2 separate regions of the Homo sapiens genome follow, and region 2 is linked to region 1. The links come from fine-mapping of genetic effects on plasma protein levels. A gene starts in region 1. The other region holds a variant in brackets. All regions are shown on one strand. Distances are between the middles of the regions.

Region 1 (8,320 bases):
TCATCACTATGGCCTCCTTTGTTCCAGGCCCTGTCTTGGAGGGAGAGACGGGGCACTGTAGGGCAGGGACACACGGGAAGCTTTCAGTCTGGTGAGGAAGAGAAACCATCACAGCGGGCATGAAGTGCAGCTAAGAGAGACGCGAATTGCCATGGGCGCCTGAAGGGAGAAGGAGCACGTCATTTTGAGAGGCTCATGAGAAGGCAGAAGGATAGAGTAGCAGAAGGGACAAAGGGGGTGGGATCTGAACTGGGCCCTGAAGGATGGGGTGAGCTGGCTGGCCGTAGACTCGGGAGAGGGCAGGCAGGTGAACGCACAAATGTCTACGCAGTCCAGTAAGCTTTCCCCGTGGCTTGTCATCTTTCTCTGGCCCCCAGACTTTCCTTCTTTCCAGCTCCTCAGCTACTCCCTCCCACCCCCGATCAGATTCACCTGCCCCAGCTTCACCCACCCACCTGACCCCTAGCCCACAAACCCGTTCCTCACTTCTTCCAGTTCTCCCTCAGGAATCCTGGATAGGGCAACCCCTGGGGTACTGTAAAGGGTAAAAGGGGTATAGGGCAGGCTCATCCTCTGAAAGGCCCCTTGGTACTCCACCTCCTCCAGATCTGGGCAACAGACTCACAGAGCTGACCAAGACCATATCTCGACTGCAAAGCGAGGTAGCCGGTGTGCGGTGAACTCTGGCAGAGGGAGGGACGCCCCGGCCTCCCGACGGTGCCAGCGTCCTCAGTCACTACATCACTCAAGTGCACAACAGCTTCCAGAACCTGGGGCCTCCCATCCCTGAGACCCCAGAGCTGACAGGGCCTGGGATTGTGAGGACCCAGGAATCATCAGGAACCGGGCTTCAGGACACTGGAGGGGTGAGGACTCTGGCTTCCGGAGAGTCTGGCCCCTGCTCCCCAGCTCATGTGCTAGTTCATAGGGAGCAGGAAGCAGAGGGGGCTGGGGACCTGCCCCAGGGGGAGGATTCGGGGACTGAGAGGAGGTCCTGATACAGTGGAAGAGTCCCTTCTTCTGTTGCTGAGCGTGGTAGCCTAGGAGGGTGAGGGTGGGGGGCCCCTTGGGAGGAGCCTGTGCTGCTTTTCTTGCTTCAATAAAGTTTCTGCTCTGGATGTGAGAGGCCTCCAGGCTGTGTGAGAATCTCTGTCTCTTGATGTTTTGAGGTCCTCCCTCTTCTTTCCCCTGAAATGGACCCTTGTGGGAGCAGGGCAGAGAGAAATGACTTGCTCTGTGTTCCCAAGTATCTTGGGCTTGGGATCCTACTTTGAGTTTCCTCAGATCTTTTATGGACAGAGTTCTGGACCAGGAGGCAGGAGACCGGGGAGGCGGGAGGCCGGGGTTCAATGGGAACCCTCTGACCAGTTGCTTCCTTCCTTGGCTTTGCATTCCTCACCTGACAAGTGGGGCTGAGGAATCACCTGCCTGCTTTCCTGCCTTCATGGTTGTCGTGAGGACCCTCTAGCTGTTCTAGCTTCTGGATTTGCAAGTTAGAGTGTTACACAGGTCTGCACAGGAGACCGTGTTAATAATAACAAGAAGTTATTATTATTGTTATTTTTGAGACGGAGTCTTGCTCTGTCGCCCAGGCTGGAGTGCAGTGGCGCGATCTCGGCTCATTGCAAGCTCCGCCTCCCGGGTTCACATCATTCTCCTGCCTCAGCCTCCCAAGTAGCTGGGACTACAGGTGCCCGCCACCACGCTCGGCTAATTTTTTTGTATTTTTAGTAAAGACGGGGTTTCACCGTGTTAGCCAGACTGGTCTCGATCTCCTGACCTCGTGATCCACCCACCTCAGCCTCCCAAAGTGCTGGGATTACAGGCGTGAGCCACCTGCTCCTGGCCCCAAGAAGTTTTTTTTTTTAGTCCCTCAGTCAGTCCCTCAGCCCAGCAAGGCCACAGCGGGGCAGAAGGTCTAGTCTCATGGAATAAACCAATCATAAAATTCCATGTCTCCACACTGCAATACCATTTAATCACGTAGCTACCTCAATAAAACTCCATGTCTCCACATTGCAACACCGTTCAATCAAGTGGCTGCCTCAGTACTTTCCTTGCTTGTCCCAGGAAGTCCCCATCACATAGCAGAGTTCCCTCAGCCCTGCTGTGGCCTCCCCAGGCCAACATCCTGGTTGGGGAGAAGGCTGCTAGGGCTGGGTCCGGAACCATGTTCTTGCTTCTCAAGGCTGCTGGAGGTGCCTCTTCGTCATATGAAGGTCACCCGTTCCCAGGGCTCCTAAGTGGCAGATGTTGGACTTTCAGGGCCCAACCCCTGAGAGCTGGAACTCTCCAGGGGCCAAGAGCAGAGTCTTCCAGGGGGGCAGAGAGGAGGCCCCCTCAGATTGTGACCCTAGCTGCACCCCTGCTGAAGGGAAAAGAGGAGGAAGGGGTCAGCAGGGTGAGGGGGAGTCAAAGCAGCTGAAGGAGGATGGAAGGGCAACTCACCTGGCGCAGACACACAGCCCCGCCTCTTCTCCCCTGCAACAGACAGCAGGGTGAGGCCTCCGCGTGGACAGACTCGCACCCAAACTGCCTGGCCCACCAGGCCCTGGCAGGGCCATTTCCCTTCTCAATCTATCTTTCCCTTCACCTAAAGGGAAACTTCTGATTTCCCTTCCTCCTCCGTCCTCCAGGAACTCTTTCCAGATTGCCTTTCCATCCCTCTTCCCACCCAAGACCCAGTCACTCTTCCATCTCTCCCTGCCTTAGCACTTGGGAATGGCACATACGTGCCCTGTCAGCCCCATCGAGCCCAGGGCCCCCCTGAGACCTGAAGCAGTCCCCTTGGCTCTTTCTGCTGCTTGCTAATCTCCTTAACCAGGTTCTTTTGGTCTATTAGACCATGTAGCAGATGGACCCTTTTGAGGACATATAGAATCATCTAAGAATGTTCACGAATCTAGAAAACACTTATAGGACCCCAAAAAACCTGAGTCACAGAGGACAGCAACTCCAGCTGACTTCCAGCCCTCATTTCCCCTTTAACCAAGTGGGTCTCCCGAAGGCCCCGGGGATTATTGTGTAAGGACATCCTGGCTTATTTCACCCACACTGCCAGTCCTGCTTCCCCCATGCACAGCTTACCACCCAGATAGGCGCAGTTAAAATGGCTACAGGTCTGATTATAGCTCCAGAGAGTCACCAAGCTCTGGGCTCCATCCTGAGAGAATCTGGTAACCAAAAAGACTTCATGGGGGGGAATCAGCACCTCGCGCTCCTTGGGAAAGACAGAGAAGGCCTGTATAGGGGCCCCAAAGCAAGTTGTTAGAGAGAAGAGGGTGGCATTACCAAATCTGTGGGCCACTGCCTTATCCAGGGAGCTGGAGGCAAACTGGCCCAAGCGGACAGAGTCTCCCAGCCTCTTGGGTTCAAAGCGAAGGCTGCCCACACCTCGGAACACCACCTCCCCAGGTCCCCTGCTGCAGCCCCCACTGCCTCGCAGCAGCTGCAGGGCCCGGATCAGGTAGAAATGCAGGGCCTTGAAGGGAAAGTGCCTCATGTAGAGCTCCCGGGAGCCTCCGCCCGTCCGCACGGCCTGATTCAACTCCCAGTACAAGGTGTTCGATGAGTTGGTGTAGACCATAATGGCTATTCCATTCTGGGCTTTGAAGCCAGGGGGCAAGGTAAGCCCTCGACGCTTGTCCTCCCAGGTCTCCTGGGCTGCCTCCCAGGATTCCCGCAGCAGGGCATGGTGGGCCATTTCCTCCTTTAGCAGGGGGGCTGCCTTCTCCTCCATCTCCTCTGCACAACCCACATAGGTATCGTCAAAGGTGTCTGGAGCCAGGCCCAGGGGCAGGATGGGAACAGCCTGGGCCTGTGGAGCAAAAGAGGTGCCACACCGAAAAGAGCATAAGTTCAGAGCACTGGACATGGGTCCTGGGGGCAAACCCATCCAGAAACACAGAATCTCATTTCTATCCCTAAATATCAGGTATATGCAATTTGGCAAGGGCCCAATAAGAGGCTTAAATAACACAGGCACTGGAGTCAGTCAGACATGGACTGAAATCTTTTTTTTTTTTTTTTTTTTTTGATGGAGTCTTGCTCTGTTGCCCAGGCTGGAGTGCAGTGGTGAGATCTCGGCTCACTGCAAGCGCCACCTCCCAGGTTGGAGTGATTCTCCCACCTCAGCCTCCCAACTAACTGGGATTACCTGTGCATGCCACCATGCCTGGCTAATTTGTTTTTGTGTTTGTTTCTTTGAGACGAAGTCTCGCTCTGTTGCCCAGGCCGGAGTACAATGGCACGATCTTGGCTCACTGCAACCTCTGCCTCCCGGGTTCAAGCAATTCTCCTCTCTCAGCCTCCCAAGTAGCTAGGATTACAGGTGCGCAATACCACGCCCAGCTAATTTTTTGTATTTTTAGTAGAGACAGGGTTTCACCATGTTGGTCAGGCTGGTCTCGAACTCCTGACCTCAAGTGATCCACCAGCCTCAGCCTCCCAAAGTGCTGGGATTACAGGAGTGAGCCACCGCGCGCAGGCTGAAATCTTGACTTTACCACCTATTAGCTGTGAGGCCTTGGGCAAGTGTCATAACTTTTCTGGACTTGAGGATACTTCCAACCTCACAGTTATTATGAAGACAGCATAAAGAGCATTACTTCTGTACAACCTAAAAGGGGTCATCCTGTCATTAGAAAGGTTCTTGCAGTCGGTGGGAGGTGGGACTAGATGACTATCAAGCACTTTTCCGGCTGTAAGATCTGGCAGGCAGGTGATGTGCAAATATTACACACAGCCAGTGTCCAGCTGCCTAACCCCCAGCCCCATTCTCCTCGGGCTCTCTTTCCCTCTCATCCAGCAGGAAGCCCTTGCAGGTAGGTGCTCAGCCACCACACCAAATCACTGTGAGCTCTGAGACGCCTGAGTCCTCCCCTGCTCTGTACCCACATTTGGGGTAGGGGTGGTGGGGAGGCCAAGCCTTGGTTGGGACGGGCTGCCAGGACTGCAGCACACAGGTAACCCAAGGAGGCTTTGCCGGGCTGTGCCTGCGCTGGGAGATGAGAGGTGGGGAGGAGAACGTTGGAGGCATCCAGAGAGGGATGGAGATGGGGGTTCTAGGAGACAGAATGGGAACTTGGGGCTCCCTGCAGAGATGGAGGTTCCTGAGAGGAAGAGAGTTAAGAGTGGAATCCTAGGGAAGAGTCCCTGGGAGAGGGATGTGAGGAGTCAGCCCCGGGTCCACTTCCTCAGGGTCTGTCCCTTAATGTCCCCCTTGGGGCTAGGAGATGGTTCCTGGAGTTACCTGCCAGGTGTGGAGGCCGAGGCTGCCGAGGGCGATCATCAAAGCCGCCAGCGCCATCCCTGGAGGAGACGTGAGGGCCAGGGGTCCGGGTGAGGGCGGGACCAGAGGTGCTGGAGTCCTGGTTTCGAGGGGCTGGAGGCAGATCTGGACCCTGTCTCCAGGCGCACGGGATCCCGGGTCCAGGATTAGGGCCCCGGCGGGGCGTGGGCGGGGCCTGGGAGTTTATTGCCCGCCCCCCGCCCCAAGTCTCCGCCCCCGACTCCCCACACCCCTTCCTCAGAGCCTCCAGTCTGGGGACCTTTCCGAGACTGTAAAGGCGGGGCCGCAGTTTGGCTCCGCCTGAGAGGGGAGGGCCGGGGGCGGAGGACCCACTTGAAGGCTGCGGAAGCCGCCAGCGGGAGGGAGCGCCGAGGGCTCTGGCGGGCGCTGCGCTGTCCCCGGAGGAGTCCGGAGTCCGGCTGAAAGCAAAGGTTCTCGAGGCTAACTGTAGCCCCCGCGCTGGTAACCCGACACCCCTTTCCCAGCGCCGCACGCGGGGCCGGGAGCGGGCGCGCCAGGGCAGGGACTGAGGAGCAATTCCCTTTCTCAAGGCCTGCGGGGTCTTTCTGCGGGACCCTCTTTGGCTGTGAGTGATGGGGAGGAAACTTGTGAGACTCGGCCTCTCCCTCAGGCGGGCCCTGACCCGGTCGGCCCCTGGTCCCCGGCCCACCAGGCCAGGGGCCCCGCGGGGGTCCCGCCGGCCGAGAGGTCGCCCCCGGAGCACTGCGATTTGCATACAGTTTGCATTTGGCCCACACCCTGGGCCACGTGCTCCAGCATCTGAGCAGCGCCCACTCCCTGCCTGCTCTGGGCCCTCTCCCCATTCGCCTTCAGTGGGGTTGGGCCAGAGACAGAGCCCTTGGTCGCAGATCCACAGGGTCCGGTCTCGCCCCTCCCCCAGACCGCTCTCGTGGCCGCTCAGACTCAGGTGACCCATGTTTGTAAACACTGGCCTTTCCCCCACCTCCTCTGGGCTTATCTATAAATAACCTGGCTCTGAGTTTTGGATGCCCCGTCAGAGGTCATGGGAGAAGGGGCCAGCGGAGGAATTGGTAACTCAGGGAAGAGCTTCCTAGCAGCCAGAGCCAGGAGGAGGTGGGGTTGTCACCCCTCCTTCCCCCAGCGGCCGGAGGGTCGCCGAAAGCTAGGATTTGAGAAATGCTGCCTGCTGGGGCTGAGGTGGGCACGAAAGATTAGAGCTACCCAAAGGAATCCATCCTGGTCTGGCTCATTAATTTTCCCCATCCCTGTCCCCCCATCCCCTCAGAGTGTCAGCCAAATAAAAAGTTTCCTCCACCTAGAATCCTGCTATCTCCCAGAATCCTTTCTGTAGACCAAACGGGAAGACATACGGTGGGTCCAGGCTTGGAGGAGGGTGGGGAGGGAGGTGCTTCTGAGTGCTTGTTAGAAAAACAGCTCCAGGGCAGGGCGCAGTGGCTCCCGCCTGTAATCCCAGCACTTTGGGAGGCTGAAGTGGGAGGATCACGAGGTCAGGAGTTCGGGACCAGCCTGGCCAACAAAGATTAGCCGGGCGTGGTGGCAGGGGCCTGTAATCCCAGCTACTTGGGTGGCTGAGGCAGGAGAATCGCCTGAAACCGGAAGGTGGAGATTGCAGTGAGCTGAGATGGAGCCACTGCACTCCAGCCTGGGCAAAAGGGCGAAACTCCATCTCAAAAAAAAAAAAAAAGAAAAAAGAAAGAAAGAAAGAAAAACAGCTCCAGGACAAGTTCTTTTGCCCCCTTCTATGAGTCTAGCCATCCCAAAGCCCTCCCAGATTCTAAAATAAGGAATCATCCTACCGTTTCCCATCATGGTGAAAAACAGCATTTGCCTATATATCCTGCCTGCCCACTCTCTGGAGGAAGTTGAGTGTTTGCAGTTGCTTGAAAAGATACCACCTGAGGACAGCTTGGCCTGCTGGGATGACCCGAGACCAGATGTATTGGAATCACTGCTTTGTCCCTCTCCACCCTCTGGCTTTGGGGGATTGCTTCTCCCATCCCAGGACCTGGAACCCAAAATAAGGCCCCAAGAGATGGATTCAAATCTAGTCATTGGGGGCCGGGTGCGGTGGCTCACACCTGTAATCCCAGCACTTTGGGAGGCCGAGGCAGGCGGATCACGAGGTCAAGAGATCGAGACCATCCTGGCCAACATGGTGAAACCCCATCTCTACTAAAAATACAAAAATTAGCTGGGCGTGGTGGCAGGCGCCTGTAGTCCCAGCTATTCAGGAGGCTGAGGCAGGAGAATCGCTTGAACCCGAGAGGCAGAGGTTACAGTGAGCCAAGATTGCGCCACTGCACTCCAGCCTGGTGACAGAGCGAGACTCCATCTAAAAAAAAAAACTAGTCATTGGGCAGGGATCCTAAGTATAGCATTAAGAAGTCCTGCAAGATCACTGGTAAGTCAGAGCTGGAACTGGGACTCAGAATACAGCCTCCTTAGTTCGAATCTCTCCTGGCACCTTAGCTAAGTCTCAGTGTTTGTGTGAAAGGTACAAAATCTAAGGAGACGCTCTCTGAGGTCGGGGTGCTGAAGCTTCCTCCTCTCTTCCTCCTCCTTGGCTGACCAGAGTACAGGACCACAGCCAGTGAGGAGGCAGTTGTCCCAGCCTGGATCCCCAGTGCTTCAGTCCACCTCCTCTCTGGCTTCAGGGATTCCCTTTTTTGTGGGAAATGTAGCAGGAAGAGCCTCAGACAAAACCCCTCAGATGCTGAGTTAAAGAAGGAAGGGGTTTATTCAGCTGGGAGCATCGGCAAGACTCCTGTCTCAAGAGCTGAGCTCCCTGAGTGAGCAATTCCTATCCCTTTTAAGGGCTCACAACTCTAAGGGGGTCCGCGTGAGAGCGTCGTGATCGATTGAGCAAGCAGCGGGTACGTGACTGGGGGATGCATACACCGGTAATTAGAAGGGAACAGAACAGGACAGGGATCTTCACAGTGCTTTTTTATACAAATAACCGATTAGGTCAGGGGTCAATCTTTAACTGCCAGGCCCAGGGTGTGGCGCTGGGCTGTCTGGCTGTCT
Region 2 (8,320 bases), 23 kb before region 1:
TTTTATGGTATGTGTACTATATTTCAATTAAAAAATAATAACCCAAGGGCAGTAATAGAATCTCTGTTCTCAGATGTTCAAAGGTTAAATGTCTTCCCTCAAGTCTGGTATATCAGGTGGGAAAACCAGGACCCCAACCCAGGGTTTCTAGGTCTATGTTAACTCTTCTACATTATTTTTGCTCTGATTTCAGGCTCCTTCAGCCCTTATGGCCTCTTACTAATAGCTGGTCTTTAACTGTTCTTTCTCACAGGCCTTTATCCAACTCTAATTCTTGGCCAAACAGGAGGGAGACAGCAAGAGCATGGCAAAAAAAAAACAGCACCGACCCCAGGCCCAAAGCAGTGGTGGCCAGGATAGTGGACAGTGCCCGATTTGTGCAGGTAAGATGCTTGGGCACAGGGAGTTGTTGTATGACAACTAGGCATTCCTTGAGGGAGGAATAGGAGATCTGGGGGTACTGCCAAGAAACATTTGAATTTGGAGTGCTGGCTTCTGTCATCTCTGCAGCTCTCAGGTGTGGAACTGTATTTTTAGTCAAGTGTAATTCAAGACAAGTGTGTACTGAGCACAGTGTGCCAGCTAAGCTGAGGAAGGGACATGGGCCCTGCCCTCAGGAGAAGAATGAAACCAAGCAATGTAAAACACGATCGGAGAGGGCCTAGAATTTCCTTCGTAACTTTTTCCTACGTGTCCAAATGCTGGTTCCTCTTTCAGTCTCTGTTCAAACGGTTCTACTTTGCCAAGTGTTCTCTTATCTGCCCAGATCATCTCCCGCAACTGAGCTTCTGCAGGATTATCTGATTCCCTTGGACTTAGCACTTCTCACTGTCTGCTGTGTATCAGTGTTATTTGTCTTCACAGCTTATACAGACTTCTTGGGGTGACATCCTGCCTGGGAGCAGGCCGTTTTGTTTACCTCCTTCTCTCCCCCATAGGTTCCTTCAGGATTGAGATTCTTCCCCAGCATGCTGCCACTTGTGGAGAGACCTCCCCACCTCACCCAGCTTCTCCCTCCTCATCATCATCTTCGTCCCAGTCTGTACTGTGGGTGTCCTCCCCAGAAAGTTCACCCCCTGTCTCCTGGGTTCCGTGCCCTATCTGCCAGTTGCGGTTCTCAGCAAGAGAAGTAGAAGAGCATGCCAGCATATGTGGGGACTTCCCTCAGGCGTGAGCCATGAGGTCCTGTGGTTTTGCCCCACCCTCTGTGACAGACTGGGACTGAATCGCTTGACAGCTGAGAAGAGCCGCTGAGGCCAAAGCTCCCTCTCTCCTCCTCTCCACTCATTCCCTCAGGACTCTGCCTGAGGGCACCTCTGTGCCTAGCCTGATCCCCATTCCCAGTTGTCAAGGCTTCTGTGACCATGGCACCTGATTCTCCTAAGGCCAGCTCTGTTCTTTTCCCCCTTGGAAGTCTCCTTGGAACTTTTGGGCCTTGGGACACCATCCAGAATGTCTTTCCCTCTGTGAGTGGTGCACATTCTCATGCCCATTTTCCTGAAAGGAAAACCGAGGCCCAGTGAAGAGCAAACGCTGCCTGACAGATAAAATCCTGTGGTGTGCTGGGAATGTGCGTGTGGATTTTGAGCACGAGGCTGACATCCAGCAACCCATGAACCGAGCTCTCAGTCTCCTTTGTGGGCTCCTGTCCTGGGCATAATCAGGTAATGGTGATGTGTGTGACACTAAGCAAGTTATTTATTTTAGCATCCAGAATTAACTGAGAGAAAAAAATCTCCCATCCTCCCGCTCACAGAGCTATGATAGGGACCAGATGGGTTAATGACTAAGGAGTAGTTACTAGGCTTGACTGTGGAACCTTGGGCATATCCCATTCCTTATCTACACAAGGAGGTGATTGGACCAGAAGGTGTCAAAGATTCCCTCAAGCTGTGATATTCCAAATTCTGTTCCCACCTTCTTTGAGCAAATATGTCTTCTCTTCCCTTTCCCAGAAGATTTCACTGTGTGGCACTAACACCGGTTCCCCTGGTCCCCAGGGTACAGAGCAGAGGGGGAGCAGCTGGTCCTGCAAAGAGAGGGCCCAGGTCAGAGTTTTGAATAGATAGAAAAGAGGGTGCTAGGCACAGTCAGGGAGAAGACTGAGCAGGAGTTCAGTCCTTCGGTTCCTGTCAGCACAGGTGCCAGCATAGGTGGGCACAGCCATGGACCCCATCACGGTAAGAAGCCTGCTCCCCTACCTTCTCCCATTCTGCTCCCATTTCTACCCATGAATAAAAGAAAAGATTGGCCCAGAGGCACTGCAGGGGCATCCTAGCTGCCAAGCAGATGGCTGACATCACTATGTAGGTGGGAGAAGAGCCCTTGGAACCCTGAGCTTGGGCCCAGAAGAGAAGAGCAGTGAGGATGGGGCCGGGCCTGGTAGAAGAGAGGGATGAGGCAGTGCCAAGGGGGAGAAATGCCCCCCAAAGCAGGGGAGGGCAAAGCGGGAGGATTGGTGAAGAAAGAGTATGTTGGGATCCTGCTGGGGCCCTGGTCAGAGCGGAGGGGCTTGGCAAAAGCCCACACAAAACCCTCCTGTGTGGACATGTCCGGGCCTGCCTGTGGGAGAGGCTCTAGGACTTTAAGAGGGAAGAGCAGCTGGGAGATGAAGTCAACAAGAGGGGAGCTGGGTCGGAACAGATCCTGTGCACCCGTATGTGGGGTTAGGCTGCCAGGGCAGCCCACCCCTGCTTTAACCTACCCTTGCTCAAGGTACCCACAGGTAGCTCTGCTGTTGGGGGGCTCCTGTGAGGGTAGAAGTCAAGCTGAGGAAGGGGCCCCCGGTCAGACCCACCTGAGGAAGGGGCCCCCAGTCTCTACCCAGTGGGGGAAGAATAGAAAGCCCCCACTGTACAGTGTCAATTTTCCTAACCTGAGAATCTACACAATAAAATGGTGAATGAGACAATATTTGCCAGTGTGTGTTTGGGACAAGGAAGAATATAATGGTGGCTGGATATAGAGGGTTAAGTGCTAGAACATGGAAGGGTGAAAGAGGCCCCAAAACAAAGGGAGTTGAAACTCAGGGTCCTAGCCTCTCCACTCCTTCGTCCGCCAACAGCCTAACTGGACTGAGATCGTGAACAGGAAGCTCAGCTTCCCACCTCCACTCCTGGATGCCATCCAGGAGGGCCGACTGGGCTTTGTGCAGCAGCTGCTGGAGTCAGAGGTTGAGGCCACAAGCGAGCAGTGGGCCAGGCTGGCCCCTGTGGAATGTGGAAGAGGCTGAGGACCGCTGCTGGAGGGAGGCACTCAACCTGGCCATCCGCCTGGGCCATGAGGCCCTCACCGATGTGCTGTTGGCCAGTGTCAAGTTTGACTTCCGCCAGATCCATGAGGCCCTGCTAGTGGCAGTGGACACAAACCAGCAGCAGTGGTGCGTCGCCTGCCGGCCCGGCTGGAACGGGAGAAGGGTCGCAAAGTAGACACCAGGTCTTTCTCACTGGCTTTCTTTGACTCATCAATTGATGGCTCCCGCTTTGCACCTGGTGTGACTCCCCTCCCCCAGGCCTGCCAGAAGGACCTGTATGAGATAGCACAGCTGCTCATGGAACAGGGCCACACCATTGCCCGGCCCCACCCGGTCTCCTGTGCCTGCCTCGAGTGCAGCAACGCCCGCCGCTATGACCTGCTGAAACTCTCTCTGTCCCGCATCAACACCTACCTTGGCATCGCCAGCAGGGCCCACCTCTCACTGGCCAGTGAGGATGCCATGCTGGCTGCCTTCCAGCTTAGCCGTGAGCTCAGGCGCCTTGCACGCAAGGAGCCTGAATTTAAGGTTGGTTTCTCATACTTCTCTCTTCCCCTGGTGCCCCATGTCTGTTCTTCCACCGGAGCATGGTTGGGCCTGTGGTCAGTGTTCTG[G/A]AAAGCTTGGAAGCCACAGAAAGAGGACAAGGCCTGGTCTCTGTTCTCAGGAAACCTCTAGTTTGATGGGGAGTCACAGAATCCCCCCTGAGGGGATTTCATTCTAATGGCAGAGAACAGCCACTCCAGAGGGGCCTAGTCTTATGCGGGAGGCACAACCCCCACTCCAGGGGAGCCCTGAGTGTCTCTGAGGGAGGAGAGAGAACAGAAACAACTAGAAAAACAGCTGGACAGACTTAGAGATGACGTTCAGTAGAATACATTACGTCTGAATACCTATTAGGTGTTCCCACCCGGAGCATTGTGTGTTGCGGCTCTCAAGCGTATGATCAGAGCAGAGAGAAGGCAGAAAGAGGGGACAAGGTGCTTCCAGGACGCTTGTCTTCATTCGGTGCCGCTGTGAATGGTGCTAACAGGGCTTCCAAAGCCCAGAAAACAGGTCAGGAAAGCCATAGCTGTTGTGTTCAGGGAGGACTCCTTGGAAGACGTAGCATTAAGCTGAGCTACAGAAGTGGGTGGTTTCATACAAGTGAAGAGGAGCAGGGAGGGTATTTGAGGTAGGACTGCAGTCCACGCAAAGGCTCTCAGGAAGTATACACGGTGATGAGTGAAGGGGAGACACTGCGCAGGAAGGACTGAGAATGCACGAAGCAGAACCTGGAGGCAGGTACTAGTGAGGGTCCTGGAATGCCGCCAGTCCAGTTTGTCCATCCCTCATCCCCTGACGGCTCCTGTGTGTCAAGCTAGACTCGATCCCCATCCCCAAGATGACCATTAGGTGGGGAAACCAACATGGATGTTAAAATGGAGGGCTAAGGAAGTTGTGACTGATGGTGGTGGAAGGATAGGAGAATGAAAAGCCCCCACTGCACAGCTAGCAGGAAAGGGCAGTCCTTTCCAAAGGACTTTCCCTCCGTTCTCACAGCAGCCTAAGAGACAGGCATAGCAGGAAGTATCATCCCCACTTTACAGCAGAGAAGCTGAGGCCTGGGAAGGGGAAGTACCTTGCCCAATGTGATACCACCTGAGGACAGTGCTGGGACTCAGACCTCACCTCCTGAAAGCTGTCCCTGGATGCTCTCTAGGGTGAGGGCCTCAAGTAAAACCCAGGATAGGATGGATAAATTGGAGCCAAGGACCGCCTTAGGCCAGGCACAGTGACTCACGCCTCTAACCCCAGCACTTTGGGAGGCTGAGACAGGAGGATGAGGAGGCCAGGAGTTCGAGACCAGCCTGGGCAACATAGCAAAATCTCATCTCTATTTATTTATTTTTTTAATTTTTTGGAGACAGAGTTTCACTCTTGTTACCCAGGCTAGAGTGCAGTGGCGCCATCTCAGCTCACTGCAACCTCTACCTCCTGGGTTCAAACGATTGTCCTGCCTCAGCCTCCCGAGTAGCTGGGATTACATGCCTGCCACCACGCCCAGCTAATTTTTGTGTTATTAGTAGAGACAAGGTTTCACCATGTTAGCCAGGCTGGTCTTGAACTCCTGACCTTAGGTGATCTGCCCGCCTCAGCCTCCCAAAGTGCTGGGATTACAGGCATGAGCCACCATGCCCAGCTATTTTTTAAAAATAATAAATAAGTGGCCGGGCGCGGTGGCTCACGCCTATAATCCCAGTACTTTGGGAGGCTGAGGCAGGTGGATCACCTAAGGTCAGGAGTTCCAGACTAGCCTAGCCTGGCCAACATGGTGAAACCCCATCTATACTAATAATACAAAAAAATTATTAGCTGAGCATGGTGGCGCACACCTTTAATCTCCCCTACTCAGGAGGCTGAGGCAGGAGAATCGCTTGAACCCAGGAGGCGGAGGTTGCAGTGAGCCAAGATCGCGCAATTGCACTCCAGCCTGGGTGACAAGAGTGAAACTCGTCTCAAATAATAATAATAATAATAATTAATAAGAACTGCCTTATTCATTTCTGCATCTCCTAAAATTGCCAACGCAGGTTCTCATATAAGGTAGGTGTTCCAATAAATTAATTAAATGAGCACATGAAGGGTGTAAGGAGTAGAAGTAAAAGTGGGACAAGAAACAGATTAGAAGGGGAAGGAAAAGAGACAGAAAAAATGACAGAAGGGTTTGGGTTGAAGTGACTTAGTGATGAGGTAGCAATAGCACTAGATAAGCGAAGTGACCCAGGAGGTATCTCATTAGAGCAGGAAGGATGAGGCCGGGTGCGGTGGCTCACGCTTGTGATCCCAGCACTTTGGGAGGCCGAGGCGGGCGGATCATGAGGTCAGGAGATTGAGACCATCCTGGCTAACATGGTGAAAACCCGTCTCTACTAAAAATACAAAAAAATTAGCCGGGCATGTGGCGGGCACCTGTAGTCCCAGCTACTCAGGAGGCTGAGGCAAGGAGAATGGCTTGAACCCGGGAGGCGGAGTTTGCAGTGAGCTGAGATTGCAGCACTGCACTCCAGCCTGGGCGACAGAGCGAGACTCCGTCTCAAAAAAAACAAAAAAACAAAGAAGGATGGGTGAGGTGGCAAAGGAAAAAGAAATCAATGCCCTAGTGACACCAGACATAGGAACTGATGGTGCAGGGGCAGGACAGAGGTGGCCCAGGCCCACTACTGGTGGGCGTGTGGGTAGGAAGGAGTGGGCTGATTTAATGGGGTTGGATCCACAGGGTGGTAGGCATACACGGACCTGCTTCTCTACAGCCTGAGTACATTGCTCTGGAGTCACTGAGCCAGGACTATGGCTTTCAGCTGCTGGGCATGTGCTGGAACCAGAGTGAGGTCACTGCAGTGCTCAACGACCTGGCCGAGGACAGCGAGACTGAGCCCGAGGCTGAAGGCCTGGGCCTGGCCTTTGAGGAAGGCATCCCCAACCTGGTGAGGCTGCGACTGGCTGTCAACTACAACCAGAAGCGGGTCAGCTGGGCCCCACCTATATCCCCTCCCTGTCCTTTTCTCTTGCCCTGCCACCTCTAGGTCTCCCTGACCAGCCCTAAGCAACTCCTTTTCCTGCCCTCGAGACCCTCTCAGGCCTTGGTCCTGAGCACCCTTCTGTCTAAGCCCTTGACCCTGTGGGTCCCCTCCCTTCTTACATTCAATCTAAGCCCCTAACCTCTCCCCAGCCCTTGGAAGACCCATTACCCACCAAGACCTCACCTTCAGACCAGGACATCTGGTCTTAGACAGCTTTGTCTCTGACCTGCTGAGTTACTTCAATCCAGTCTTTCTGTTGTTCAGTTTCAGTACATCACTCTATAAAGCAAGATAAGACTAGATCTCTCAGGCCTTAAATATCCCCCAAAAGGTTCTATTATTCCCTGTCTCCTCAGACATCCTCCCCTCTAAGCTAAAGACAGGCTCCTTGTTTAGCCTCCCCCAGCTCCTTGCTCCTCACTCTCATCCACCCTCAACATCCACCAGGAACTTAACCAAAAACCTTCCTTCATAATGGCTCCCCTGGCCCTGTCTCCCAGTACAGCAAACCCCAGCTTCCCTCTTCTGCCCTCCTCAAGATCATCCAGGCTGATGTCCCACACCTCTAAGAAGGCAGGGGACCCTGGGGGTTCTGGGTCTTGGGTCCCCAGTTCTACCCACCACTGATTAACTTAGACTCAAGAATGTAGGGTCCAGAGAGTTCAGGAAAATCTTTGAGTTCAGTTTCCCCTCCATAGACCGAGGCCTAGAGAGAGATGGGTCTGACCACGGTCATCTGACAAGCGAGTTGGCTGGTGTGGGGAGAAAAGAAGGATTGTTCGACCTCTGTGGCAGGGAAGGAAGGGCTGTGTACCCAACTGGCTCCCCCATCCTCATCCTTGCCTGGTGGCCTCCCACTCTGCTTATGCCCCATCTCTGCTTAGTTCGTAGCACACCTCATCTGCCAGCAAGTCCTGTCCTCCATCTAGTGTGGGAACCTGGCTGGTTGGCGGGGAAGCACCACCAGCTGGAAGCTCTTTGCTACCTTCCTCATCTTCCTCACCATGCCCTTCCTCTGCCTTGGCTACTGGCTGACACCAAAGTCCCAGGTACTAAGAATAAGATTAATGATAACTGTCACTTATTGAGCACTTGTTTTATGAGGCCCTGGGCTAGACACTTGGTGAATATAACTTTGTGTGAATGTTTCCATTAAGTAGCTGCAAGTGTAGCCCTGAGGAAGGCATTCTGCTTCAGTGGTACAGGGGAGCAACCTGAGGCACAGGGAAGGGCAATGCTCTTTTTGTCAAAAGTACACAGGAAATAGTGGAGTGAGGATTTAAACCGAAGTCTCTCTGCCTCCAAAACCTTAATCCTACTAACAGCCCTATACTCGCCTAAAGAGAGGCCCACCCCAGCTACAAATTCTATGGGAGCCCTTCATCCAACCAATATGTCCTTGAGACCCAACTGTGAGCCAAGCATGGTGCCTGGCACTGGGGTTATCATGAAGAAAAGCCCTGTTCCTGCTGAGCAGGTGAGGAATGGGGAGAGGGGTCTTCCAGGA

Which allele goes with the higher level. Alleles are on the strand shown, and positions count from the first base shown. The strength of an association depends on the size of the effect and on how common the allele is.
As copies of A replace G in region 2, the plasma level of the protein whose gene starts at base 5,438 in region 1 goes up (weak association).

What was found. A credible set is the group of variants that fine-mapping cannot tell apart. PIP is the chance, under the fine-mapping model, that this variant and not a neighbour inherited with it causes the effect. Protein levels are from antibody-based Olink assays in UK Biobank. Linkage for the fine-mapping came from a reference panel and not from the study's own genotypes, which makes the PIPs less certain.
Region 2: its variant is the best candidate, but not a certain one, in a credible set for the plasma level of the ART5 protein (UK Biobank, PIP 0.71).

Annotation. Positions count from the first base shown.
Region 1 is chr11:3,636,555-3,644,874 of GRCh38, forward strand. It overlaps ART5 (ADP-ribosyltransferase 5), which reads right to left and starts at 5,438. Exons shown (of 4, transcript NM_053017.5): 1 at 5,252-5,438; 2 at 3,088-3,817; 3 at 2,449-2,481; 4 at 1,958-2,239. The coding sequence starts at 5,308. The coding sequence ends at 2,184. It also overlaps the pseudogene TRPC2. RefSeq lists an enhancer at 5,145-5,858 and a silencer at 5,998-6,047.
Region 2 is chr11:3,613,644-3,621,963 of GRCh38, forward strand. It overlaps the pseudogene XNDC1CP. Among named protein-coding and RNA genes, the nearest start is that of ART5, 24 kb to the right of the region's middle. RefSeq lists enhancers at 1,893-2,417, 2,418-2,942. The variant G/A (reference allele first, on the strand shown) is at 3,868.